Homo sapiens: one gene and its partners. The protein of the gene in region 1 interacts with the protein of each later gene in a biochemical or structural test. Each region holds a gene or a part of one and is shown on either strand. Other genes may lie near its edges.

The links.
Region 2: the proteins of CSTA (region 1) and PI3 form a complex in vitro, tested with the Homo sapiens proteins (one study listed by BioGRID).
Region 3: the proteins of CSTA (region 1) and KRT1 form a complex in vitro, tested with the Homo sapiens proteins (one study listed by BioGRID).
Region 4: the proteins of CSTA (region 1) and IVL form a complex in vitro, tested with the Homo sapiens proteins (one study listed by BioGRID).

What each region holds. Positions count from the first base shown.
Region 1 is NC_000003.12:122,320,468-122,328,268, reverse strand, and holds the start of CSTA (cystatin-A), read right to left. Parts: upstream 3,022-7,801; 5' UTR 2,977-3,021; coding exon 2,911-2,976; intron 1-2,910. UniProt on the Homo sapiens protein: This is an intracellular thiol proteinase inhibitor. Has an important role in desmosome-mediated cell-cell adhesion in the lower levels of the epidermis.
Region 2 is NC_000020.11:45,170,044-45,177,070, reverse strand, and holds PI3 (elafin preproprotein), read right to left. Parts: upstream 2,170-7,027; 5' UTR 2,149-2,169; coding exon 2,070-2,148; intron 1,211-2,069; coding exon 936-1,210; 3' UTR 935-935; intron 702-934; 3' UTR 527-701; downstream 1-526. UniProt on the Homo sapiens protein: Neutrophil and pancreatic elastase-specific inhibitor of skin. It may prevent elastase-mediated tissue proteolysis.
Region 3 is NC_000012.12:52,674,235-52,677,441, reverse strand, and holds the end of KRT1 (keratin, type II cytoskeletal 1), read left to right. Parts: coding exon 1-126; intron 127-257; coding exon 258-383; intron 384-946; coding exon 947-1,167; intron 1,168-1,697; coding exon 1,698-1,732; intron 1,733-1,824; coding exon 1,825-2,249; 3' UTR 2,250-2,706; downstream 2,707-3,207. UniProt on the Homo sapiens protein: May regulate the activity of kinases such as PKC and SRC via binding to integrin beta-1 (ITB1) and the receptor of activated protein C kinase 1 (RACK1). In complex with C1QBP is a high affinity receptor for kininogen-1/HMWK.
Region 4 is NC_000001.11:152,904,015-152,911,561, forward strand, and holds the start of IVL (involucrin), read left to right. Parts: upstream 1-4,531; 5' UTR 4,532-4,575; intron 4,576-5,764; 5' UTR 5,765-5,783; coding exon 5,784-7,541; 3' UTR 7,542-7,547. UniProt on the Homo sapiens protein: Part of the insoluble cornified cell envelope (CE) of stratified squamous epithelia.

The DNA of each region.
Region 1 (7,801 bases):
TCAGCCTTCCAAAGTGCTGGGATTACAGGCTTGAGCCACCATGCCCAGTTTAATTAAGTGACTCTTAATCTCTTTGAATCTTGGTTTCATCATCTGCAAGATAGACACAATATCTTCCCTGCCTGCTCCAGGGGTTATGAAGATGAAATCAGAGCTCGAATGGAGGTCAAGCTTTTAAAAACTGCAAAACCCCTTTCTGGGGTGAGGTAGCTGTTCTTAATACTTATCTCTCATTCTACCTCTCTGATGACATTGGAGCCAAAGGGAAGCAGCTTCCTCCCTGCCACACACACACTTTCAAATTAATTTTATAATTTAAGATGGGGCTCACAGATAGGTGTTATTAGCAATGCAAGGCCTTCTGGTAGCTTCTTATTTTAAAAATTAATAATTCTTGCTAATCGAGTGATAGATTTTTTTAAAAATCATTAAAATTTTCTGTACTGTCTCTATTTCAAATTTATTTTTCCCTATGTTCCTACAGCTCTGTTCCTTAGAGAGTCTCAGGGGGATTTTTTTAGGGTCAGGGATGCTTTCAGCCACAAATTTGAAGTAAACAATTGTGATACCTCACCTATGCACATTTCTTTTTCATTTTCAAGTCATTTTTATGCACATTATCTCACTTAGTCCTTACAGCTCTGACATAGGTAGGGCAAGAGGTGTTACCTTCATTTTTCAAATGAAATAGACAAATTTTATTTTGGCACCCTGACTTTTTTTTTTTTTTTTTTTTTTTTGAGACGGAGTCTCACTCTGTTGCCCAGGCTGGAGTGCAGTGGTGCAATCTCGGCTCACTGCAAACTCCACCTCCCGGGTTCACGCCATTCTCCTGCCTCAGCCTCCCGAGTAGCTGGGACTACAGGCGCCCGCCACCACGCCAAGCTGATTTTTGTATTTTTTAGTAGAGACGGGGTTTCACTGTGTTAGCCAGGATGGTCTTGATCTCCTGACCTCGTGATCCACCCGCCTCGGCCTCCCAAAGTGCTGGGATTACAGGTGTGAGCCACTGCGCCTGGCCCTTTTTTTTTTTGAGACAGAGTCTTGCTCTGTTGCCCAGACTGGGGTGCAGGCACTATCTTGGCTCACTGCACCTTCTGCATCCTGGGCTCAAGTAATTCTCCTGCCTCAGCCTCCTGAGTAGTTGGGATTACAGGCACCCACCACCATGCTCGGCTAATTTTTGTATTTTTAGTAGAGATGGGGTTTCACCATGTTGGCCAGGCTGGTCTCGAACTGCTGACCTTGTGATCCACCTGCCTCAGCCTCCCAAAGTGCTGGGATTACAGGCATGAGCCACTGAGCCCAGCCTGCACCCTGACTTTTAAAGCCCCATCTCCCACTGGCCTTGTAGGATGCCATATATCTCTGGTCCTGCCAGCAAGCAAGGCCATGGGTGGCAGCAGCAGCAGCACTTGGGAGTCTGGTAGAAATGCAGAATCTCAGACCTACCCCAGGTCCCCTGAATCAGAATCTAAGGTTTATCAAGACGTGCAGGTGATTCATGTGCACATTCAAGTTTGAGAACATTGATCTGATCTGGGGATTCACATGAAGACATTACTGACTTAATATCATCTCCCAGGAAAAAAGCTCCAAGATATTTATTTAAAAAAAGAACTCTTGAAAGAGAAATAATTAGTCCCCAAGAATGAGTGATGGGATTCTAGGCATCTGGCCCCTTAGAGAGCTTTCTAGTTCCCAGAATATACAGGATCCCAACTCTTATAATCACACAAAAAGCTGATCTTGTTTTCCAAGCTGTCATAGAATGATGTTTCAGAGAGAAAAAATAAGAAGGAATAATATAAGAAAATAAGGCAACAAACTAAAAACCTAAAGTAGTAATTTGTACATGTTTTCCTTTCATAAAATATGCAAATAAATGTTTACTACATAGCTAGATGATAGCTAATCACACAAAGAAAAATATATCAGGGATGGGTGTGGTGGCTCACGCCTGTAATCCCAATACTTTGGGAAGCCTAGGTGAGTGGATGGCTTGAGCCCAGGAATTCAAGACCAGTCTAGCAACAGAATGAAATGCCATCTCTAAAAACAAAACAAAACAAAACCCCCCAAATCAGCCAGGCGTGGTGGCATATGTCTGTAATCCCAGCTACTCAGGAGGCTGAGTGGGGAGGATCGCTTGAACTCAAAAAGTTGAGGCTACAGTGAGCCGTGATCAGACCATTGCACTCCAGCCTGGGTGACAGAGTGAGACCCCATCTCTTAAAAATGAAACAAAACAAAACAAAAAAGAAGAAGTGAAAAACACATCAATCTGCTAACAACATTGAGTTCTATTTTTCCATATATAATTTGGTGCCCTATGACATTTCGGAGTCACTATAGACTGTCACCTCTGTTCTATTAGTTGAATTACCTTTTAACTATGAAAAGACTAAAACACTATCTATTTGGGCAAAAGTGTATGAAGTTTGTAAGTAGATTGCCTTTACAATATTATTCTTCATTCAATCTATTTAAAAAAATTTTCCCTGCAGTGCATTCCAAGACTACTTCATCAAATTGTTAATAACCTTAGACTTCAATTACACGTTGGCTTCACTTGGTGAGATTAGAAAAGTTTCATCAGAAACTGAATTAGTAATTCTAGAATCATATCTTGTAAGAGCTTTAGAGAAGATACAATACAAATTCTTTTACCCATGGAGAAAATGAAGCTCAGAGAAGAAATGTGATTTGCTCAAGGTCACACTCACAGTTTGGGGATTATTTGAGGCTTCATCTGAAAAACTCTTATTTCATCTTAGTTGTAAAGAAACCTGAACAAAGCCACAAACATCCTAAACTTCTGGTTTTCATGTTCAACCACAGCCTTTCCACAGGGACAACTTATGAATCAAGATTTTGGCTCAGACTTTTTCCTGAATGGCATCAACTCACCTTATCAACAATCTCCTGGATTTCTGGAGTGGCGGGTTTGGCCTCAGATAAGCCTCCAGGTATCATTTTGGCTGATTGCTTCTTTGCTGGACAGGATGCTGGAACCAAAGTGAACAGGGAAGTGTGGAGACTCGTGTTTTAAAAGAGGCGTTCACTAGCTCCGCCTATAGAATGCTTTATTTTCCACAAACAGCAAAGAGGCATGGGGAAAATGAGTATGCCGCCAGGCAAGTCTTCTTGCTTCCTGGAGAGAATATGCTACATGGAATTTGGAAGAAAGAGGGGTTGGAGGATGAACAAATGGGCAAGTACAGGAGTCATGTCCTAACAAGCATCAAACGTCCCTGCATTCTCTTTGACAATGGTTCCATCCTGTTGCATCATCTGAATTATGAAATCTGAAGCCGCAACTAGAATTTCCAAATGTTTTAAAACTTCTAACACAAAATTTTATTTTTTTTAAAGCAAAACTTACTAATAATGTCAAGGTTAGTTTAGAATTTACTTGACTTTAGAAAGAAAGCAAAAGGATCTATCTGGAGGACCTTGGCTGGATGTGTCTTCTTTACTCTTATTTAAATATCTGGAAATGTTTAACATACGGTAAAACACAAAGAATAAAATAACAAACATCTATATTTCTATCACTCAGAATTAAAACTTTTAACCCTTTTGTCATATTTGCTTGCTGTTTTTTATTTTTGTAGTTATTTTTAGGAAATAAAATATTACAGATATGGAGGAAGCCCCACACCCCACGCAACCTTGCCTTCCAGAAGGCAAAGTACATGGTGAATTAATATCCTTCCAGGCCATTTTTATATGTGTGTCTTTAAAATTAAAATATGTCTTACTTGGTGTGTCTTTAAAATTTCACTTAAATTGTATGCTAAATATATTCTATGTTATGTTCCTTTTTCTATTCAACATGTTTTTGAGCCTTTCTATGTTGATATACACATAGATCAATCCACAGATAGATCAATCCTGTTCATTTCCTTTAACTGTGATATGCTATTTTATGCTAGACCTATCTATTTAGTCTACCTATCTAATTGCTATATTCTAGTTCATATTTTACATACTCATTTCTCTATTGATGACGATTTTCGTTGTTTCTGGTGTTTCATTCTTACAAACAACGTTGCATTTTTTCTCCTTTTTACATGAGTGAGGGCTTCTGCAGACAACTTATCTAGAAGCAAAATGGCCACATTGTGTGAATATTTATGTATATTATTTTATTCAATTTTGGGAATATATAATACATACACAGGATAAAAATGTTTGGAAGGAACCAGGCTTTACAATATAAGGAATTATTCACTCACTTAATTCCTCAGACACCCTTCTACTCTCCAGAGACAATTATTGGCACCAACTTCTTCTGTATCCTTCAGAGACATTCTTTACACATACAAATATAAAAATAATTGGAGGCTGGGCACGGTGACTCACGCCTGTGATCCCAGCACTTTGGGAAGCCGAGGTGGGTGGATCACAAGGTCAAGAGATTGAGACCATCCTGGCCAACATGGTGAAACCCCATCTCTACTAAAAATACAAAAATTAGCTGGGCGTGGTTGCGTGCGCCTGTAGTCCCAGCTGCTCAGGAGGCTGAGGCAGGACAATCGCTTGAACCTGGGAGGCAGAGGTTGCAGTGAGCCAAGATCGCGCCACTGCACTCCAGCCTGGTGACAGAGCAATACTGTGTCTCAAAAAAAAAAAAAAAAAAAAAATTGGCTACACACACACGCACACACACACATAGATACATATTCATCTATATAGGTTTTCTTTTATAAAAATGGTATCCTACATAAATTATTATACTTTTTGTTTTATTCCTAACAATATATTTTGGAGACTGTTCTATATCACAATACAGGGAGGTGCTTGTTTCTTTATAATGATGTTTGGTGGGTGCTTGGCAAACTCTTGGAGCTAAGTGAGTGTCTTACAGGCTAAACTAAGGGGTGCTACACAAGTATCTCTCCATAGAATGCCTTTACCCTGTGGATTAAGAAGAACAGCGAATGTGGATGACAAGGTGCTCCCTCAAGAGGCCACAGGTCATCTGAAGACTTTGGCTCAGCTTTCATAGGCCACTGGTTCTACTCATCTTCATGTGACCTCCCCAAGTCAAGTCCTTTCATATTAAGGCCCCTGACGTTTTTCCAAGCCTGAAGCCCATTTTTAGTTGTCTGCTGACATCCTAGTCCAGGCCATCCTTATTGAATCTCCCCAGTGGTAAGAGATATGGTAAACCACAAGTCTACCCTTCTCTTTCTAGGGTCTATGCCCTGTACTTTCAGCTTTTTCCTATTGATTCTCAATAATTTATTTTAGAAGTAAAAACTTCCCCAAAGCAAATATTGCTTTTGTGTTTTGTATTCCTCCTATAACAATCCTAGTTCTTCTCAAGAGTAGTATGTGTGCCTCTGATTGACAGGGAAAGAGTCGCACACAAGGAAGTGCAAAAGAGAAAAGCACAATTCATATCTCTGTATTAATTGTTTACTTAAGTTAAACAAACAGTTGATTAAATACACATTTATTTTAAAGGTACCTTTAAGATTGCTTTTTGGATTTTTTGGTATGAATTATGCAGACTGTGTTTCTGGAGCTAGATATCCTCATATATTTCATATTTCTTGTCTGTGAGCTCATCTGCCACAGGAGTTATCTTTTATGTGAGTTTTCTCTTTTGTGGCTGGTTTGTGGGGCTTTCCTATGGGGTGGTTTCCGCTACCAGGTCCTAGGAGGTACACAAGCCCCAGCCCAGTTCTTACTTTACTGTTGGCTTAGAGCTCTTGCACCATAAAGATACTGAGAATTTGGGCTTGTCTCCAGCTTTAGTTACAGGCCTGGGCTCTGAACTTCCCCAGCTAATTGCGCTTCTACCCATTGCCAGGAGTAGATGTGTGGATGCATACACTTACCATGCAACCCACCGTTCCTACTGCTAGCTATTTCCCCAGGAGAAATGAAATATGTCTGCACAAAGACTGGCATATGAATGCTAACAGCTGCATTATTCATAATGATTCAAAACCGAAGAAAACTCCTTGTCCATCAACTGGTGAATGGTAAGAATAGTTGTGGTAGAGTCACAGTATAGAATACTACTTAACAATAAAAAGGAACAAAATAGTAATACATTAAATCACATAGGTAAACCTCAAAAACAAGACAATGTAAGAAGAAGTGAAAGAAAGCAAACACAGGAGGCCATGGACTATATTATTCCATTTAGATGAGACCTTAGAAGAGGCAAAATTATAGTGACAAAAAGGAGATCAGAGGTTGCTTGAGGCTGAGGTGAGGGATGGAATGCACTGTAAAGGGGCGCAAGAAAACGTCTTAGGGAGATGGAATTGTTCTATACATGGATTGCGATAGTGGCTACACAACAGTATATGATTACCAAACTTCATCAGATTGTGCACTTAAAGTGGGTGGTCTTGTTTCCACACCAAAAAAATAAAAAAATAAAAAAGTGGGTGGACTTTATCATATGTAAGTTACACCCCCAAAAAGCTAGAATATAAAAGCACTGCCTTTTGAATGCCTTCTTTGTGTGTCTCTTGGTCTCGCTGTTATACTTCTTCCTCTAATGTTTTTCATTAGAGTCTTAACTCCTACTGCACCAATACAGTGCTTTAAAAATGACTGTGAAGGCCCTATTTGAAGTGTGTGTTCAAGGGAGGACATAGTTATTCCTCCTGGCTATCCTTGTGGTGAAGAGGGAAAGTGGGGGGCAGGGTTGACTGAGGACAGGTCATGAAAAACAGGTGAACGATCTTACACTTTAGTTGTTAGGTAATGGAGGTCACTGAAAAGTCAGAGCTATAGAGAAGCCATTTGTGCTTTAGGAAGATAAAACTGGAGGCAATGTGTAGACTGGTATATTAGGAAAACACGAACTAACTCCCTCTCTTCTACTAAACCCTCAACACTCAACATGCTCTGGCCATCATAGTGCATGGAAGCTGAATCCCTGTACCCGCATTGTTGTCTGGCTTCCTGGCTTGAGAAAAGCAGAGTTTCTGTTCCATGTTGAGGAGGGGAGAGACAGTGCAGCCAGCGGGATGGCAGGAGAGCAGCCCATACTCCATGGCGAGACCCCTGCTGCGACGCCAAGCCTGCAAAAAACTAACTGGACTTGCTAAAAGCTTAGCATGAGGGTATTTATTTTTTTCAGGGTCAAGGAAGAGCACACTAAGTTCATGCCTGAATCACTGTGGAGCAAAACAGAGTGATCAGAAGAGAATCAAGAGAGCCAGACCTTAGAGATCAGCCAAACTCTTGGGGAGGCCTAGGGTTTCCCTTCTCTAAACTGGAGGACGAGGTAATTCTACCCACATATTTGTGGCTGGGGACTTCCTAGTTCTTATTTGGGTTACACGTATTTTAGGAGTCCAGGTGGAATTTCTTTTCCTTTTTGAAAACTGAGGCATAATTTATGCATAGTAAAATGCACGAATTTTAAGTGCACAGCTACATAATATGTTCCCACATTTTTTACAATTGTTATATATAGAACATTCCATCACCCCAGAAAGTTCTCTCCCATCACTACAATGTGCTCAACCACTAGTTTTGCCTGTTTTTAAATTTCATATAAGTGGAAGTATGATGTAGGTGCTCTTTGTTTCATCTGCTTAGCATAATGTTTTTGATATTCATCCATGTTATCAGATTTATTAGTAGTTTGTTCTTTTTTATTGCTGTGTAGTATTCCAGTGTAATAACATGCTATGTTTGTTTCTTCAGTCTCCTGCTGATAGCATTTGGATTGATACTAGTTTTTGGCTATTAATAAATCTGCTATCAACAAGTCATTAGTCTATATATCTAGGAGTGGAAATTTTGGGACAAGGGCAAAGTG
Region 2 (7,027 bases), on another chromosome or scaffold:
TCATGGAGGAATCTCAGGCATAAACCAGTGAAATTCTAAAGAGCAGGAGTTTCGCAGCATCTGTAACATCATCCTTTCTATGTGGTGTTGAAAAGATATAGATTCCTGGGAAACATTAATGAGAAGGAAGTGGGGAGCTGTAGTTGCAGCCATAAGGGTTGGCTGGTCACACTGGTAAGGCCGACAGTAGCCAGGTCAGGACTGATGGTGGATTGGAAAAAAAAGACCTGCTTATGGTTTATGTAATGTTTATTTATTTTTTGTGTTTTGTGTTTTTCCTGGTCCTTGGCCAAAGGCAAGATTTCCATATTTCCATTTCCTGGTGAAAAGGAGCTGGCAGCACTGGGGCTGATTATTGGATTTGTAATATGAAGCCCTAGCAATGTGCCTCCTGTTTCCTCCCCCCGCCCTGCTCTCTTTCACCATGGGACCGTTTCCCCTCTTCACTGGAGAGAAGAAGTCCCAATTCTACATCCATTTCCCCAAAGCATCCAGGAGCCCAGAAGTCATAGGAACCAGAAACAAGTGGAGCAGAAGGAACTCTTTATTGGAAAGTGGATGAGAGAGGCAGCTCCAGCCGTGGGCATCCTGAATGGGAGGAAGAATGGACAGTGTGGGAAGGGGAAGGGCAGCAGGGACTTAGGACCAGATGGGGCCTGTAGCTCTGGGGACGGCACAGGTGCAGCAAGGACCGGCTCCCTCTGTGGAAGAGAAGAGTATCAGAGGTGAGAGTCAGCACATCAAAGCACTCAGAGGCAGTGAGGAAGACAGATCATCCTTCTAGGCACTCTGGTTATAGCCTCTCAGACCCCTCAGTCTCCCAGTCTTTCTGTCACCTCCCACAACCTCCCTCCCACCAACCTGGGATGCTTCCCCACCGCTCAGCCTTCTTTTGTGTCTTCAGGGGTCTCCTCGTTCTCCAGCTAGTGCTCACCTCACTGGGGAACGAAACAGGCCATCCCGCAAGAGCCTTCACAGCACTTCTTGATTCCTGGGCAGTCAGTATCTTTCAAGCAGCGGTTAGGGGGATTCAACATGGCGCACCGGATCAAGATAATGGGGCAGGAGCCAGGCTTAGTGGAGACTGGACCTTTGACTGGCTCTTGCGCTTTGACTTTATCTTGACCTTTAACTGAAACTTGTCCTTTAACGGGATCTTGTCCATTGAATGGAACACGGCCTTTGACAGTGTCTTGACCTTTAACAGGAACTGTTAAAAGAAGAAACGAGCCCACATTTATACCCAGTAAGCCTCTGCTTCAGCTGCCATGTCTTTCCTCTGGGTCTGGGTCCATCCACTGCTTACTGCAGCATCCTCAAACCATGGCCTGAGTAGGGAAGGTACACCTCTGGGAGCTACACTCTTGGAAGGCTCTTCCTTTTTTGGGGTGGTCTACTGGACCAGAGTTCCCTTGAGTATTTGTTTCTTCCCCCTTCCTCCACTCCAAGTCTCTCAGGAGCAGTGGTCAGACTGGGGTGACACCCAGCAGTGAAGAGGACACATTGTCATTTGTTAGGAAGTGCATTGGAGTAGGAAAGAACCCTGAGCCACATACTAGGAGACTTGAGCCCCATCCTGGCTCTGGGAATTACCTTGGCAATTGCTCACTCATTTCTACATTTTTGGTTCCCTCCTTATAAAATGGGGGTCCTCAAACAACATGATTCCTGAAGGCTTGTTGTTTCTTAACCTCCTTTTAGAGTACTGATTACTCCAGTGCTTTTATGGGGCAGAGAAACGGGGGACTGTGTCCACACCCAAGGTTTAAAATCCTGGAGTTCATTATTTTATTGCACATTCTGCACAGGTATTGACATCTGAGGCCAAGGCCACATACCAACATTACTTCCACAAACAGTCCTGATATCTCAGTCACTGAGGTGGAAAGCACGTGGAGTCCACCAGCCAAAGTCCTATTTTTTCTGAATATGATGGCAAAGAACAGAAAGCTGAAATCTGGGCTCCAGTGCTGCCTACTGCTTCAGAAGTGCTCCCTGTCCTGGCCCAGGGTGTCCCAGAGGGTCTCCCCTTAGTCCAACCCAGCCCAGCAGGTCACCTGTTCACTCACCTCCCGTGACAGCTGCCTCTAGAACCAGCGTCCCAGCGATGAGGAACACCACCACGATCAAGAAGCTGCTGGCCCTCATGGTGTCAGGAAGGTGTTTGGCTAAGAGCTAAGGCCATACCAATCTTTATGCAGTCCAGCTTGGCCTGGCTCCAGGGGCGGGTCTGTGGTATTTACAAGGGATAATTCCTTAGCTGTATTGGGAAATATCCACCCCATTCTGGGAGGGACCTGGGGGCTTTCCCTCAGGATTATTCACAGGAAGAACTAATGGACATTACATCACATCATCTCTGATTGTCCCAAGAGTTTTCCTACTTTCTCACAGAGTAGAAGTGCTGGCTCACTTATTAGGTAACATTACAATGAAATTCTTCATGTTTTGAAATACAGTGAGACCCAAGAAGAGAAAGGAATCACCGAAGGTTATTCAGCAAGTCACTGGTAGATCCAGTCTTGATTACAAAACCAAGGTGTTTCTCCATTATGCTCTGGTGCTACAAACCCCACCCAGATCTACTTTATCATTTTACCACTCCCAGCATCAAACTGGGCATTTCCTTCCTTCTTCCCTGGTCCTGCAAAAAACTCTGTAAGACAAATTTGCCTTGAATACATAATGACTAATTATTGCACTTTGCTGTTTCAGAGACGGCCTTTCAGATGCATCAAGAAAGTAATTGGAAGGTGGAATTCTAGGTCTGAAGAGGGATGATGCCCTTGAAATCACAGTGGTAGGGAGAAAATAATCAGAAAGTAGTAGAAAACATGTATCATGTATACATTGGACATCTACAGTGTGTGTGTCCAGCATGCCTCCCCACTTCTTTGAACAGCACCCTGTTTCTTGTGAAGAATTGTTGTCTCTTTGAACCATCAACTTGTGAGTCTAATGGGGACTGCTAATCATGAAAGCCTGACCCCTGACCACAGGTAGGGGTGTGTGTGTGTGTGTGTGTGTGTGAGTGTGTGTGTGTGTGTTGTGTGTGAGACTTGGTCTGGTCTATTAACATATTTTATTTGAATGAGTAATGAAAGGGGAAAACGGGGGTTCCTTCTTCTGGAAAAGGTGATATATATGAACCAGGGAATTCCAGAAGTGGTTATCTAAGTCTGGGGGTGGAGATCAATTGTCTGAGAAAAACGACTCTAATACACTGAGACAAGGAGAGAAGTGATGGTGAGAGAAGATTCAGATGACACAGCCAGGTTTCCCTCCTTTACCTTGAGAGCAGTTCTTCACACACCCTTCTCATGGTTGGGTTATGAGGCAATAAATTAGCCCTCTGCTTCAGCTAGTCTGACTTACTATTCTGTCATTGTTACCAAAAGTTCTGAGTAATAGAAATGAATATCCTGAAGTTGGGTATTGTCAGGGACAGAATCTGAGTTAAGAAAGTCACTGAGTTGAGGTGGAGTTAAGGCAGGGAAGGTAACAAACTAATTATTGGACACTAATTCAGCTGGTGAAATCCCCACCCCTTGTCGATTTAGACTCTGACCACATGCCCACCAAGCCTGAAACTGAGGGAGACATAAACGAATGTCAGACTGTGGAAGCCTTTGGCTACCTTACACAAAAGCTCATTGTACAATAAGCCATACAAACAAATAAAAAGCTCACAGAAAATACCTATATTCTTTAAAGAATAGCATTAAAATGAGCTGCCAGGTAAAGGAGGAGAATATTTGCTATATCTATGCTCCATGCCTCTCCTCAGTTGCTTCATTCTCCTTCCTCCCCAGAGATAACTGCTTCCTAAGATTTTATGGTAATTAGCCCTTGCTTTCCTTTATAGTTATGCCACTTCTGTCTGTATTCTGAAATATATATTCAGTTTAGTATACTTTTTCAATTTGTATGTAAATGAAATCTAAGGTATAGTGTTCATATGTCCTGCTTATGTTGCTCAACATTATATTTTTGAGAGTCATCCATTTTGAAGTCTACACCTGTAGTTCATCATTTTCACTGCTGTACAGTATTCTATGAAAAATACCAAAAATGTTATATATTCATTCTACTGTCAATATACATTGGATATTTCTAGGTTTTAGCTATTATAGTGTTGCTATGAATATTCTTGTACATATCTCTTGCAGAACATAGGTATGCATTTATTTTGGATATATGGTTAGGAATGGAATTGCTGGATCACAGAGTACAGATCACAGAGTATAGATACATCCAGCTGTCATAAATACTGCAATCAATTTTCCAACATCATTGTACCAATTCACACTGCTATCAGCAATGTGTGAGCATTCCATTTGCTCCATAATCTCACCAATGCCTCATATGATTTGCCTTTTCATTAGCCATTCAGGTGGACATCTTGTGGGATTTCCTGTGATTTGAATTTACACTTTCCTAATAACTGGTGAAGCTGACCCATTTTTAATACTCCTTTTTTTTTTTTTTTTTTTTTTGAGATGGAATTTCGCTCTTGTCACCCAGGCTGGAGTTCAATGGCACAATCTCAGCTCACTGCAACCTCCACCTCCCAGGTTCAAGTGATTCTCTTGCCTCAGCCTCCCAAGTAGCTGGGATTACAGGCACATGCCACCATGCCCAGCTAATTTTTATATTTTGCAGTTTCACCATGTTGGTCAGGCTTGTCTCGAACCGCTGACCTCAGATGATGCACCTGCCTTGGCCTCCCAAAGTGCTAGGATTACAGACATGAGCCACTGCACCCGGCCCATTTTTAATATTTCTATTATCCATTTGGCTATCCTCTTTTGTGAAGTGCCAATTCAAGTATCTTACCTTTTATTTACTTATTTATTTAATTTCAACTTTTATTTTAGATTTGAATGGGTTGTTTATCTTTTCTTATTGATTTGTAGTAGAAAAGAAACTTTTATGCATTACTAATGAGAGTCTATATTGGTGAAACATTTAAAAACAGTTTGACATCAGCTAGTAAAATTGAATGTGTACACAATCTATAATTCAGCAATTGCACTCCTAAAGATTTAATTAAGGAAAATATTTCCACATGTTTACCAAGAAACATGCACAATAATGTTCATAAAAGTACTGTTTTTAACAATAACATACTGGAAACAGTCCATGTTACCAATACTAAAATACTGGATAAATATGTCATGACATATTAATGCATAAATATGTCATGACATATTAATGCAAGGAAGTATTATACAATTATGAAAATAACTGAATTACAGCCATGCACAATATGACCATAATTAAAATAATGTTGAATAAACAACACAAGTCCACAGTGACAATATTTAGAATTACCCACTTGTCATAAAACTCAAATGAAGGAGAACTGGGAAATATATTGCCTAGGCATATTTACATATGAAGCAAAGCTCAAAAAGGGATACATAAAAAATGAAAAAACTATAAAAATGACATACAAGATAGTGGCTAACTCTGGAAACGAGAGAAGAAAACATTCTGGATGGGTGAGAAGGACACGGGTTGATTTAAGTTGTTGGTTATTAGTAATGTTCTAGTTCTTTGATTGCTTGGAGAGAGAGAGAGAGAGAGAAAGCTGCAGAGCGAATCATTTATAGACTACCTTAGCTTTCAATAAACCCACATTGCTACCCTCGCAAGTTGTTTCCAATATTTTGCCATTACAAACTATACCACATGTGGCCTTTCTTAGCTTGCTTTCTTGTGAACCAGATTCCCAGAAGTATATTTGCTTATACAAAGGTGAAATGCATTTGAAATTTTGATAATATTGCCATATTTCCCTTGATAGGGGTTGTACCATATTGTAATCCCACCAGTAGTGGATAAACTTGCCTGCTGTTTCCATCAAGCCTCATGAACAGACTGTGTGTCTAATTTTGGGGTTTTATTTTTAACTTTTATTTTAGTTTCAGGGGTACATGTGCAGGTTTGTTGTATAGGTAAATTTCATGTCATGGGGGGGTTCGTGTGCAGAAGTATTTCATCACCAGGTAATCAGCATAGTACTCGATTCGTGTTTTGATCCTCACGCTCCTCCCATTCTCTACCCTCAAGTAGGCCCTAGTGTCCATTGTTCCCTTCTTTGTGTCCATATGTACTCAATGTTCAGTTTTCATTTATACGTGAGAAAATGTGGTATTTTCTTTTCTGTTCTTGTGAAAGTTTGCTTAGGATAATGGCCTCCAGCTCCATCCATGTTGCTGCAAAGGACATGATCTTGTTCTTTTTTATGACTCGTAGTATTCTATGGTGTTTACATACCACATTTTCTTTATCCAGTCTATCATTGATGAGCAATTAGGTTGATTCTATGTCTTTGATACTGTGAATAGTTCTGTGATTCACATACTACATGGATGTGTCTTTATGATAGAATGATTTATATTCCTTTGGGTATATAACCATTAATGGAATATCTTGGGTTGAATGGTAATTCTGTTTTAAGTTCTTTGAGAAATTGCCATACTGCTTTCCATGCTGGCTGAACTAATTTACATTCCTACCAGCAGTGTATAAATGTTCCCTTTTCTCTACAACCTTGACAGCATATGTTATGTTATAACGACTGGTGTGAGATGCTATCTCAATTACTGTTTGGATTTTCATTTCTCTAATGATCTGTGATGTTGAGCATTTTTTCATTTGTTTGTTGGCAACATGTATGTTTTCTTTTGAGAAGTTTCTGTTCATGTCCTTTGCCCACTTTCTAATGGGGTTGTCTGTTTTTTGCTTGTTAACTGGTTTAAGTTCCTTATAGATTCTGGATATTAGACCTTTGTTGGACACATAGCTCACAAATATTTTCTTCTATTCTGTAGGTTGTTGGTTTACTGTGCTGATAGTTTCTTTTGCTGTGCGGAAGCTTTTTAGTTTAACTAGGTCCTATTTGTCAAGTTTTGTTTTTGTTGCTATTGCTTTTGGCATCTTCATCATGAAATATTTACCAAGTTCTACGTCCAGAATCATATTTCCTAGGTTACCTTGCAGGGTTTTATAGTTTTATGTT
Region 3 (3,207 bases), on another chromosome or scaffold:
GTCATCCTCTCTATGGACAACAACCGCAGTCTCGACCTGGACAGCATCATTGCTGAGGTCAAGGCCCAGTACGAGGATATAGCCCAGAAGAGCAAAGCTGAGGCCGAGTCCTTGTACCAGAGCAAGGTGAGTGGGCTGAAAGCCTAGCCAGTTTCCCTGAAATGGCTTGTCTTGCTATCCTGTGTTATCTCATGTATGTGTGCCTGTGCCATGCTGAGTTCTGCCTACATTTAACAAACGCTATCTACCATCTTTAGTATGAAGAGCTGCAGATCACTGCTGGCAGACATGGGGATAGTGTGAGAAATTCAAAGATAGAAATTTCTGAGCTGAATCGTGTGATCCAGAGACTTAGATCTGAAATCGACAATGTCAAGAAGCAGGTATGTGCTTTCTCCTTCTACCACTCAGCTGTATGGAATGGGGGTAACCCTCAGGTAAAGGGCGAGTGCTTTCCTAGTTTTGAATCTTGCAATTCATCCCAAGGCTACATTATTATCCCTGGTTCCTTTTGTGACTATGCTAGTTTCCAGAATGCAGCCATCATGCTGGGTTCTCTTTAGGGAAATCTGTGAGAATGGCCTAGTAGAGAAAGATGGGATGGTCAATGTGAGTGATCTAGCCTATGACCCAAAGTGGACTTAAGAGTTGGGGAGTGAGAGGAAGGGCAGCCAGGAGGTTTTAGAGTAGGTGTTTAGAAGAATGTCAAGTCTGTAAGGGTTGTAGGAGCCTTGACTCAGGGCCAAGAGAGGCTGTTGAGTTATCCCTAAGGTCTTTTAAGGAAGTCAACATGGTGATGTGTTATCTGGAGGTGGGTGTGAGATGACTTAAGGCCAAGTGGTTCTGTTGGACTCATTATTGGCCTCACTGGAGTGGGGAGACCAATTGGGATGAGGAGGCCTAGTGGGGAATGCATATTATGAGAGGGTGTCATATTCTTTTTCAGATCTCCAACTTGCAGCAGTCCATCAGTGATGCAGAGCAGCGTGGCGAGAATGCCCTCAAGGATGCCAAGAACAAGCTGAATGACCTGGAGGATGCCCTGCAGCAGGCCAAGGAAGACCTGGCCCGCCTGCTGCGCGACTACCAGGAGCTGATGAACACAAAGCTGGCCCTGGATCTGGAGATTGCCACCTACAGGACCCTCCTGGAGGGAGAAGAAAGCAGGTGAGGAAGGGACGCTGGGAGTCGAACCTCTTCTCATGGTCTTCCTTCCTTGCAAGCTGATTGTTGTTGAAGATGCAGCCATCTGATTGCAGCTTGTGCTGGGTATGGGGAAATGAAAAGTACACGGAGCAGGAGGAAGGACCTAGTTTTACTTTGGGAGCTGGAGTCCCAAGCTGTTTATTTTTTTCTTCTAGGGCTGTAACATATCTAGAAAGAGCTTTGAGGTGGAGCAAATTATTCTTTATCTGGGCTGCCTCAGATGGCAGCTGGCCTAAAGTCGGCATCTTTAGAGGGGGCCTTCATTGGCTGCAAGGCTCTTGTCTCGTTTATATGGGAATTTCTCCGTGTTTGTACTCTTGCTGAGAAAAAATGACAGGTCTGGGAGGCCAGAGGGGATTGGATTAAGTTTCAGATTAAGTGCATTGGAGAAGACCCAGATGGGGAAAGTCTTCAAGGTGGTGGAGCGGGGAATGGGGAAGCGGTTTGGGAAGCTGGAGTGTCCTGAGGAATTTTCTTATTTTCTCCTACAGGATGTCTGGAGAATGTGCCCCGAACGTGAGTGTGTGTAAGTACAAGTCGATTTCTCAGGGGCATGTGCAGGCTTTGTTGGGCTGGAAACGGAGTTGAGGTTGAAAATAACTGAGCTTCCTCTTGCAGCTGTGAGCACAAGCCACACCACCATCAGTGGAGGTGGCAGCCGAGGAGGTGGCGGCGGTGGCTACGGCTCTGGAGGTAGCAGCTATGGCTCCGGAGGTGGTAGCTATGGTTCTGGAGGTGGCGGCGGCGGCGGCCGTGGCAGCTATGGCTCCGGAGGTAGCAGCTACGGCTCCGGAGGTGGCAGCTATGGCTCTGGAGGTGGCGGCGGCGGCCATGGCAGCTACGGCTCCGGAAGCAGCAGTGGGGGCTACAGAGGTGGCTCTGGAGGCGGCGGCGGCGGCAGCTCTGGCGGCCGGGGCTCTGGCGGCGGGAGCTCTGGAGGCTCCATAGGAGGCCGGGGATCCAGCTCTGGGGGTGTCAAGTCCTCTGGTGGCAGTTCCAGCGTGAAGTTTGTTTCTACCACTTATTCCGGAGTAACCAGATAAAGAGATGCCCTCTGTTTCATTAGCTCTAGTTCTCCCCCAGCATCACTAACAAATATGCTTGGCAAGACCGAGGTCGATTTGTCCCAGCCTTACCGGAGAAAAGAGCTATGGTTAGTTACACTAGCTCATCCTATTCCCCCAGCTCTTTCTTTTCTGCTGTTTCCCAATGAAGTTTTCAGATCAGTGGCAATCTCAGTCCCCTGGCTATGACCCTGCTTTGTTCTTTCCCTGAGAAACAGTTCAGCAGTGACCACCACCCACATGACATTTCAAAGCACCTCCTTAAGCCAGCCAGAGTAGGACCAGTTAGACCCAGGGTGTGGACAGCTCCTTAGCATCTTATCTCTGTGCTGTTTTGGTTTTGTACATAAGGTGTAAGCAAGTTGTTTTTCTTTTGTGGAGAGGTCTTAAACTCCCCATTTCCTTGTTTTGCTGCAATAAACTGCATTTGAAATTCTCCATGTCTCGATCGCCCTTGTTTACGGCACTGTCTAACCTGGATGGGTGTTTTGTGAGGTAAAAGAAGACACTAGAGCCACATGGCATATGGGAAAGTCATGCACACAAACATGAGAAAAATGCAGAGGCCAACCAGGCAACATTTCACCAGACTGGAATCACAGAGAGAGCAAGCACTTTCCCAGATGGTGGGGATGTCATGGAGAAATGGAGAGACCGGGTGACAGGTTTTGTTCATTTGAGAAGGCTTTCTTGAAAAGGGCAGTGAGCAAGCAGGTTGGGAGGAAGAGGTGTGGCATTGAGAAGAAGGGAAAGTATTGCATGAAAAAGTAATTCTTCACGTGGAACAGCCAGTAAGGAGGGGCATGAGTAATATAGGGTCAGCAGTTACTGGAGCCAGAATACAGACTTTGGCCTGGGGAGTTCAAGAACTAAGAGTGGTAATAGAGAGTTGGATATTCCATTTCCCTTCTCTTTTTGTGCCACCACCCAAAGCTCT
Region 4 (7,547 bases), on another chromosome or scaffold:
ACCAAAGAGGGTCATCCCAAGGGCATTTTGGCTGAATGAGAGCCAGAGAAAACTGACACTCCCTCCAGAAAACCCAGAACTGGCCATGTTGAGGTAAGTGACTGACTCACAGAGCTAGAATGTGTCTTTGAAGTCACCTAGTGGAACCTGTCACAGCCATCAGATGCTCAAGCACCTAGCAAAGCAGCCTGATGGGGAGGAGAGCCCCTGACTGGAGGTCAGGACACATGGGTTCCAGCCCAGCTCTATCACAGCCTCGCTGTAGGCTCTTGGGCAACTCATGTTCTCTCCAGACTTCAATTCCTGTCAGAAGACAGATGAGCCCCAATGGTGAGAAGTAGGCATAGGTGTGTTAAGAAGCACCTGCATTCTAAGCTACTTGAAGGCAGGGATTGTGTGTTTTCTATTCATAACCCTATCTCCAGTGCCTTGCACATAGTAGAGGCTCAGTAAGTGTTGGTTGAATGAATACATCAATTATATTAACAACTTTACCTTGTGACCTGGTATTAGGCAAAGGCATTACTTCTTTTTTTGTTGAGGTACAATTCATATAACATAAAGTTACCATTTTAAAGTGAACAGTTCAGTGGTGTTTAGTACATTCATATATTATGCAACCACCAACTCTATGTCGTTCTATAACATTTTCATCATCCCCATTAGCAGCTACATCCCATTCTCTCCTCCTCTCACTTCCTGGCAACCATCAGTTTGCTTTCTGTTTCTATGAATTTACATATTGTGAATTTAAGTTATTATTATTAGTTATTATTAGATAGATAAATAGAGAAGCTCCTATGCACCAGGCGCAGTGTAAGGCATTTCCCATGCATTCTCTGAGGACTCCTCCATCTCAGACATTCTGCTGCTGGACAGAGAATCAACTGTACAAAATGTGATTTCCCCAACAATGAGCCCAAAGGGGAGGGAATTTCCTTTAGTTGGAGAAGGGGGAACTGAGTGTCTCTTTCCTCTACTACTGGCAGCCTTTATGCCTCTGCTCCTCTTGCTGCCACCAAGAGCAGAGCTGTGGCTGCCCTTCCACAGCTCTCAGATCCAAGAACAAAGGCCAGAACTGGTGACTGAGATCCAGTGATCCAACAAGCCCAGGAGAGAAAGCTATAAGAAGATGTAAGAGAGGAAAGCAGGTCAGGACAGACAGATCCACCCAGAAGCCCAAAAAGGATGAGTCAGCCCTCTTGGCCCTTTCTTGGTCTCATCTCCCTTCCTTGAATAGCAGACGGGCACAAAAGGTGAGAGAAGAGCCAAGGTCAGGTCCAGGAAGCAATGGAAAAAGATGAGGAGGATTCAAAGTTTGTGGGGAAGGTCGGGCACCGTGGCTCACGCCTGTAATCTCAGCACTTTGGGAGGCTGAGGCGGGCAGACCATGAGGTTAGGATTTCGAAACCAGCCTGGCCAACATAGTGAAACCCCATCACTACTAAAAATACAAAAATTATCCAGGCATGTTGGCACATGCCTGTAGTCCCAGCTACTCAGGAGGCTGAGGCAGGAGAATCGCTTGAATTGGGGAGGCAGAGGTTGCAGTGAGCCAAGATTGCACCACTGCACTCAAGCCTGAGAGACAGAGTGGACTCTGTCTCAAAAAAAAAAAAAAAAAAAGAAGTGTGTGGGGAGACAACTAGTGCAGGTTGGCAGGTTGAGGACTGAGAGCCGCTGATGTAGGAGACAGTGCCCTGGGGAGAGGAGGAGGCTTGTGAGAGGGAGAGGAGGCTAGCAGCCTCAGAGCATGGGGCAGTGCCATACCAGGAAGCAGATGAGGCATGGCTATTCAAGATGAGAATGCATGATTTTCTGGCCCAAGTCACCTTCCAGGACCATCTGCTATGACCCCTCTGGCAATCTGTTAAGAGCTGTCCTCAGCATCCCTCCCCACAGGACATTGAATCACCATAACCAATTTCTTCTGCCCCCTACCACTAAGCAACAGCTCAAATAGGTTGCCTCACTCAGGAGAGAGACAAACTAGCCAGCTTCTGCCTCCAAATTTGAAATAGCCAGTGCATCCTTAGGCTGGGGCAGAGTTGGGGCCAAAGCTTCTCCATGTGTCATGGGATATGAGCTCATCCTTATTATGTTGGGTGGGGGTTGGACAGTTACCCAGACTTGTCATGTGGACCTGGAGCTTATGAGGTCATTCACATAGGCAGTGAAAGAACCTCTCCCATATACGTGAATGCCTGTCTCCCAAATGGGGCAACCTGTGGGCAGAATAAGGGACTTCTCAGCCCTAGAATGTTGAGGTTTCCCCAACCCCTCCCTTGCATACACACACACACAAACACTCCCTCAGCTGTATCCACTGCCCTCTTTCCCACACCCTAGCTTTGCCCAGCAGTCAAAGGCTCACACATACCATCTTCTCCTTAAGGCTCTTATTATGCCGTGAGTCAGAGGGCGGGAGGCAGATCTGGCAGATACTGAGCCCCTGCTAACCCATAAGACCGGTGTGACTTCCTTGATCTGAGTCTGCTGCCCCAGACTGACTGTCACGGGCTGGGAAGAGGCAGATTCCCCCCAGATGAAGTCAGCAGCAGAGCACAAGGGCATCAGCGCCAAAGTAAGGATGCTTGATTAGTTCTTCAGGGCAGAGTGGGCTGTGCTTCCTCTGCCCCAGAAAATGGCACAGTCCCTGTTCTATGGGAAAAAGAATGTGAGGTCCCTGGGTGGGCTCAGGGAACAGAGAGGTCATGAGGAGGGGATAGCACTGCAGAAACCAAGGGTGCCTTGTGAGTCCTCCCTCTGTCTTTTTAGGCATGATCCAGGAACATGACAAAATTAGTGCTTTAAATAGATTTACTTGGGGCTAAGAGAAATGTGCCTGTCAGGAAAACTATGGGGAATCAGGACACTTCTCAAAATTAGCCCCACTGAGTATTGTCTTTATAATTCCTTCTTTTTGGATTAGATTGTAAAAAAGAGAGTGTAAATGAATGATGTCCATATAATAAGTTATTAGCCAACCATTAAAAAGAAAGGGAAGAAATAAATCAGTTTGGTTTTTACACACACATACAGACACACACATATAAACATTGATCAACACTGAAATGTTTAATAGTCATTATTTTCGGGTCGTAAAATTCACTGTTCTTCAATGAATACTTGTAGAGCACATATTATATGCAGTAGTTTTGATAGGTTCTAGGGGTATAGTGGAAAACATACCAGGTATACGCTGCTCTTAGCTTATTTTCCAGTGGGAAAGATAGACAATAAGCAAGTGAACAAATGCAAATAAATTACTCTAGATTGTTATAAGTGAAATTAAGTACCAATCCTTTAGATATGGTACACAGAGAAGGATCTCTGACAGACCCCAACATTGACACTGAAGCTGAAAGGCATAAAAGAACCAGAGACCTGGGGAGGGGCCGGTGGGCAGAAGGAGAGCAGGTGCCAAGCCCCCAGGTGGAGAGCTCTGGGCTCATCTCAGGAACCGAAGGCCCTCAGTGAGGTAAGAATATACCTCTCAGGGAGAGATTGACATGAATTGGGGCCCCAGAAGAAGGCAGAAGCCAGGTACCCAGGGTCTTTTAAACCACGGCAGTGAGTTTGAATGTTATTTCAAGTGTGCTGGTGCACTGTTGGCACGGGGGAGAGATGTGCTCAAATCCCCACTCTGAAAGATTTCTTAAGCTATTTCTAGAGTATGATTTACAACAGGAAATGGATGATTTGATTCTGATCTTTATACCTTCATGCATTTAAAAAAGTACTTAAGAAAGTAGTTTGGTTTGTCATTATAAAAAGCAATACTTATTTTTATATTGTGTAGATTCAATCTTGTTTCCTTGCCTAGAGTGGGCCGTGCTTTGGAGTTCTTATGAGCATGGCATTCCTGAGAACTTCTCTAACTGCAGCCTCGGGCATAGAGGCTGGGCAGCAAGTGGCAGCAGCAGAGGACTCCTAGAAGCCTTCTACTTGACTCTACTTGGCCTAAAGTCAAACTCCCTCCACCAAAGACAGAGTTTATTTCCACATAGGATGGAGTTAAAAAATATATTCTGAGAGAGGAAGGGCTTGTGGCCCAAGAGAACACCCCAGAAATACCACCCCTTCATGGGAAGTGACTCTATCTTCAAACATATAACCCAGCCTGGACATCCCCGAAAGACACATAACTTTCCATTTCATGCCCTTGAAAGTGAATCTTTTGGCCTAATAATGAGAACAAACTCATTTTGAAAGTGGAAAAATTGAGATTCAGAGCAGAAGTTTGACTAAGGTCACAAAACAGTAGGATGCCTCACTCAGCTCCCTGTGCCTAGGTCAGAAAAGCATCACAGGAATAGTTGAGCTACCAGAATCCTCTGGCCAGGCAGGAGCTGTGTGTCCCTGGGAAATGGGGCCCTAAAGGGTTTGCTGCTTAAGATGCCTGTGGTGAGTCAGGAAGGGGTTAGAGGAAGTTGACCAACTAGAGTGGTGAAACCTGTCCATCACCTTCAACCTGGAGGGAGGCCAGGCTGCAGAATGATATAAAGAGTGCCCTGACTCCTGCTCAGCTCAGCACTCCACCAAAGCCTCTGCCTCAGCCTTACTGTGAGTCTGGTAAGTGTCGGATGGTAGAACCAGGGTTGGGACTCGGGACCTCCAACAGCATACGATGTGGTGGGGGTGGGCAGCCTGGGTGGGGGTGGGCATTACTCTGGGGCTGGATTCAGCTGGACTTTCATTCTAGGGGGACTCGAGTCAGAGTACTGAGAGAAAAGTGCCTTGGCACAGAAGTGCAGAACAGAGAGTAATCATCCTATGTCCCATCTTTTCTTGTGACCATATTTTTGGATTTGTGTGTGAGAGAGAATTATGGAAGGGAGGAGGGGAATAGCATTCAACTTCTTTCCTAAACCTCTTGGGTTTTGACAGACCATCATTTTGCCTTCTTTATGGAGGGAGAGGTTCAGGGAAGAGCTTCTACCTTTTGGCTATGCTGCACAGAGGGATGGCAGAATGGGGAAACCTTTCTATTTGGAGAAACCTAGGCAGAGCTGGGACAGGAAAACTCAACTTAGAAGTATAAGACTTGGAAGAACAACCTCCAACTCTCAGCAACCTTCCAGCTCCCGCAGCCCCACCCCAGACACAAGGACTGCAGCTAAACCTCAGAAGGTCAGGAGAGAAAGCAGCCCTGGGGTTGAATAGGCCAACCTGCTGGCTTTACAGGGGGGAAAACCAAATCCCAGGAGACTAAGTGACATGCCCAGAAACACACAGCATTCCAATGGGAGATTCAGGCCTAGAGCATGTCCTGTGGCTCCAGTCTGGAGGTCACACCATGACCTCTTAGGTCCTCTCTGGCACGGCCTATTGGTTTTCTAGGACTTGGTGTTCTCCAAGAGACATTTCATTCCCTAAGGCCTTACTCCTCACTGTGACATAATCCCAGAACGCATCTCTGCTCCTTGGTCAGTGAAGCGATGAGGGTGGACACAAGGACTAGACAAGAGCAGACAGTGAGCTGGCACCTGACCCACCCTTGCAGAACAGCCCTGCAGACAGATCTCCTTGTTGGCTCTCACCTGGGAACAAGGAGGCTCCTAGGAGGACCTTTCTCTGCCCCTCCACATTTCCACCCTTCTCTCTCTGCTGCTTTTGGGAAATGATAGTCCAGAGGTGGTAGAACAGTACCCTGCCCAAGGGAAGAGGGGATGCTAAAAAACCAGATACTTCTGCAGATTCCCAAGGTTTCATCTATTTCCTTTGCCTTCAGCCTGTGCATCAGACCTCTTCTGTCTTTCAGGTTGACAGTAGCTTCTAAGATGTCCCAGCAACACACACTGCCAGTGACCCTCTCCCCTGCCCTCAGTCAGGAGCTCCTCAAGACTGTTCCTCCTCCAGTCAATACCCATCAGGAGCAAATGAAACAGCCAACTCCACTGCCTCCCCCATGCCAGAAGGTGCCTGTCGAGCTCCCAGTGGAGGTCCCATCAAAGCAAGAGGAAAAGCACATGACTGCTGTAAAGGGACTGCCTGAGCAAGAATGTGAGCAACAGCAGAAGGAGCCACAGGAGCAGGAGCTGCAGCAACAGCACTGGGAACAGCATGAGGAATATCAGAAAGCAGAAAACCCAGAGCAGCAGCTTAAGCAGGAGAAAACACAAAGGGATCAGCAGCTAAACAAACAGCTGGAAGAAGAGAAGAAGCTCTTAGACCAGCAACTGGATCAAGAGCTAGTCAAGAGAGATGAGCAACTGGGAATGAAGAAAGAGCAACTGTTGGAGCTCCCAGAGCAGCAGGAGGGGCACCTGAAGCACCTAGAGCAGCAGGAGGGACAGCTGAAGCACCCGGAGCAGCAGGAGGGGCAGCTGGAGCTCCCAGAGCAGCAGGAGGGGCAGCTGGAGCTCCCAGAGCAGCAGGAGGGGCAGCTGGAGCTCCCAGAGCAGCAGGAGGGGCAGCTGGAGCTCCCAGAGCAGCAGGAGGGGCAGCTGGAGCTCCCAGAGCAGCAGGAGGGGCAGCTGGAGCTCCCACAGCAGCAGGAGGGGCAGCTGGAGCTCTCTGAGCAGCAGGAGGGGCAGCTGGAGCTCTCTGAGCAGCAGGAGGGACAGCTGAAGCACCTGGAGCACCAGGAGGGGCAGCTGGAGGTCCCAGAGGAGCAGATGGGGCAGCTGAAGTACCTGGAACAGCAGGAGGGGCAGCTGAAGCACCTGGATCAGCAGGAGAAGCAGCCAGAGCTCCCAGAGCAGCAGATGGGGCAGCTGAAGCACCTGGAGCAGCAGGAGGGGCAGCCTAAGCATCTGGAGCAGCAGGAGGGGCAACTGGAGCAGCTGGAGGAGCAGGAGGGGCAGCTGAAGCACCTGGAGCAGCAGGAGGGGCAGCTGGAGCACCTGGAGCACCAGGAAGGGCAGCTGGGGCTCCCAGAGCAGCAGGTGCTGCAGCTGAAGCAGCTAGAGAAGCAGCAGGGGCAGCCAAAGCACCTGGAGGAGGAGGAGGGGCAGCTGAAGCACCTGGTGCAGCAGGAGGGGCAGCTGAAGCATCTGGTGCAGCAGGAGGGGCAGCTGGAGCAGCAGGAGAGGCAGGTGGAGCACCTGGAGCAGCAGGTGGGGCAGCTGAAGCACCTAGAGGAGCAGGAGGGACAACTGAAGCATCTGGAGCAGCAGCAGGGGCAGTTGGAGGTCCCAGAGCAGCAGGTGGGGCAGCCAAAGAACCTGGAGCAGGAGGAGAAGCAACTGGAGCTCCCAGAGCAGCAAGAGGGCCAGGTGAAGCACCTGGAGAAGCAGGAGGCACAGCTGGAGCTCCCAGAGCAGCAGGTAGGACAGCCAAAGCACCTGGAACAGCAGGAAAAGCACCTAGAGCACCCAGAGCAGCAGGACGGACAACTAAAACATCTGGAGCAGCAGGAGGGGCAGCTGAAGGACCTGGAGCAGCAGAAGGGGCAGCTGGAGCAGCCTGTGTTTGCCCCAGCTCCAGGCCAGGTCCAAGACATTCAACCAGCCCTGCCCACAAAGGGAGAAGTATTGCTTCCTGTAGAGCACCAGCAGCAGAAGCAGGAGGTGCAGTGGCCACCCAAACATAAATAACCACCC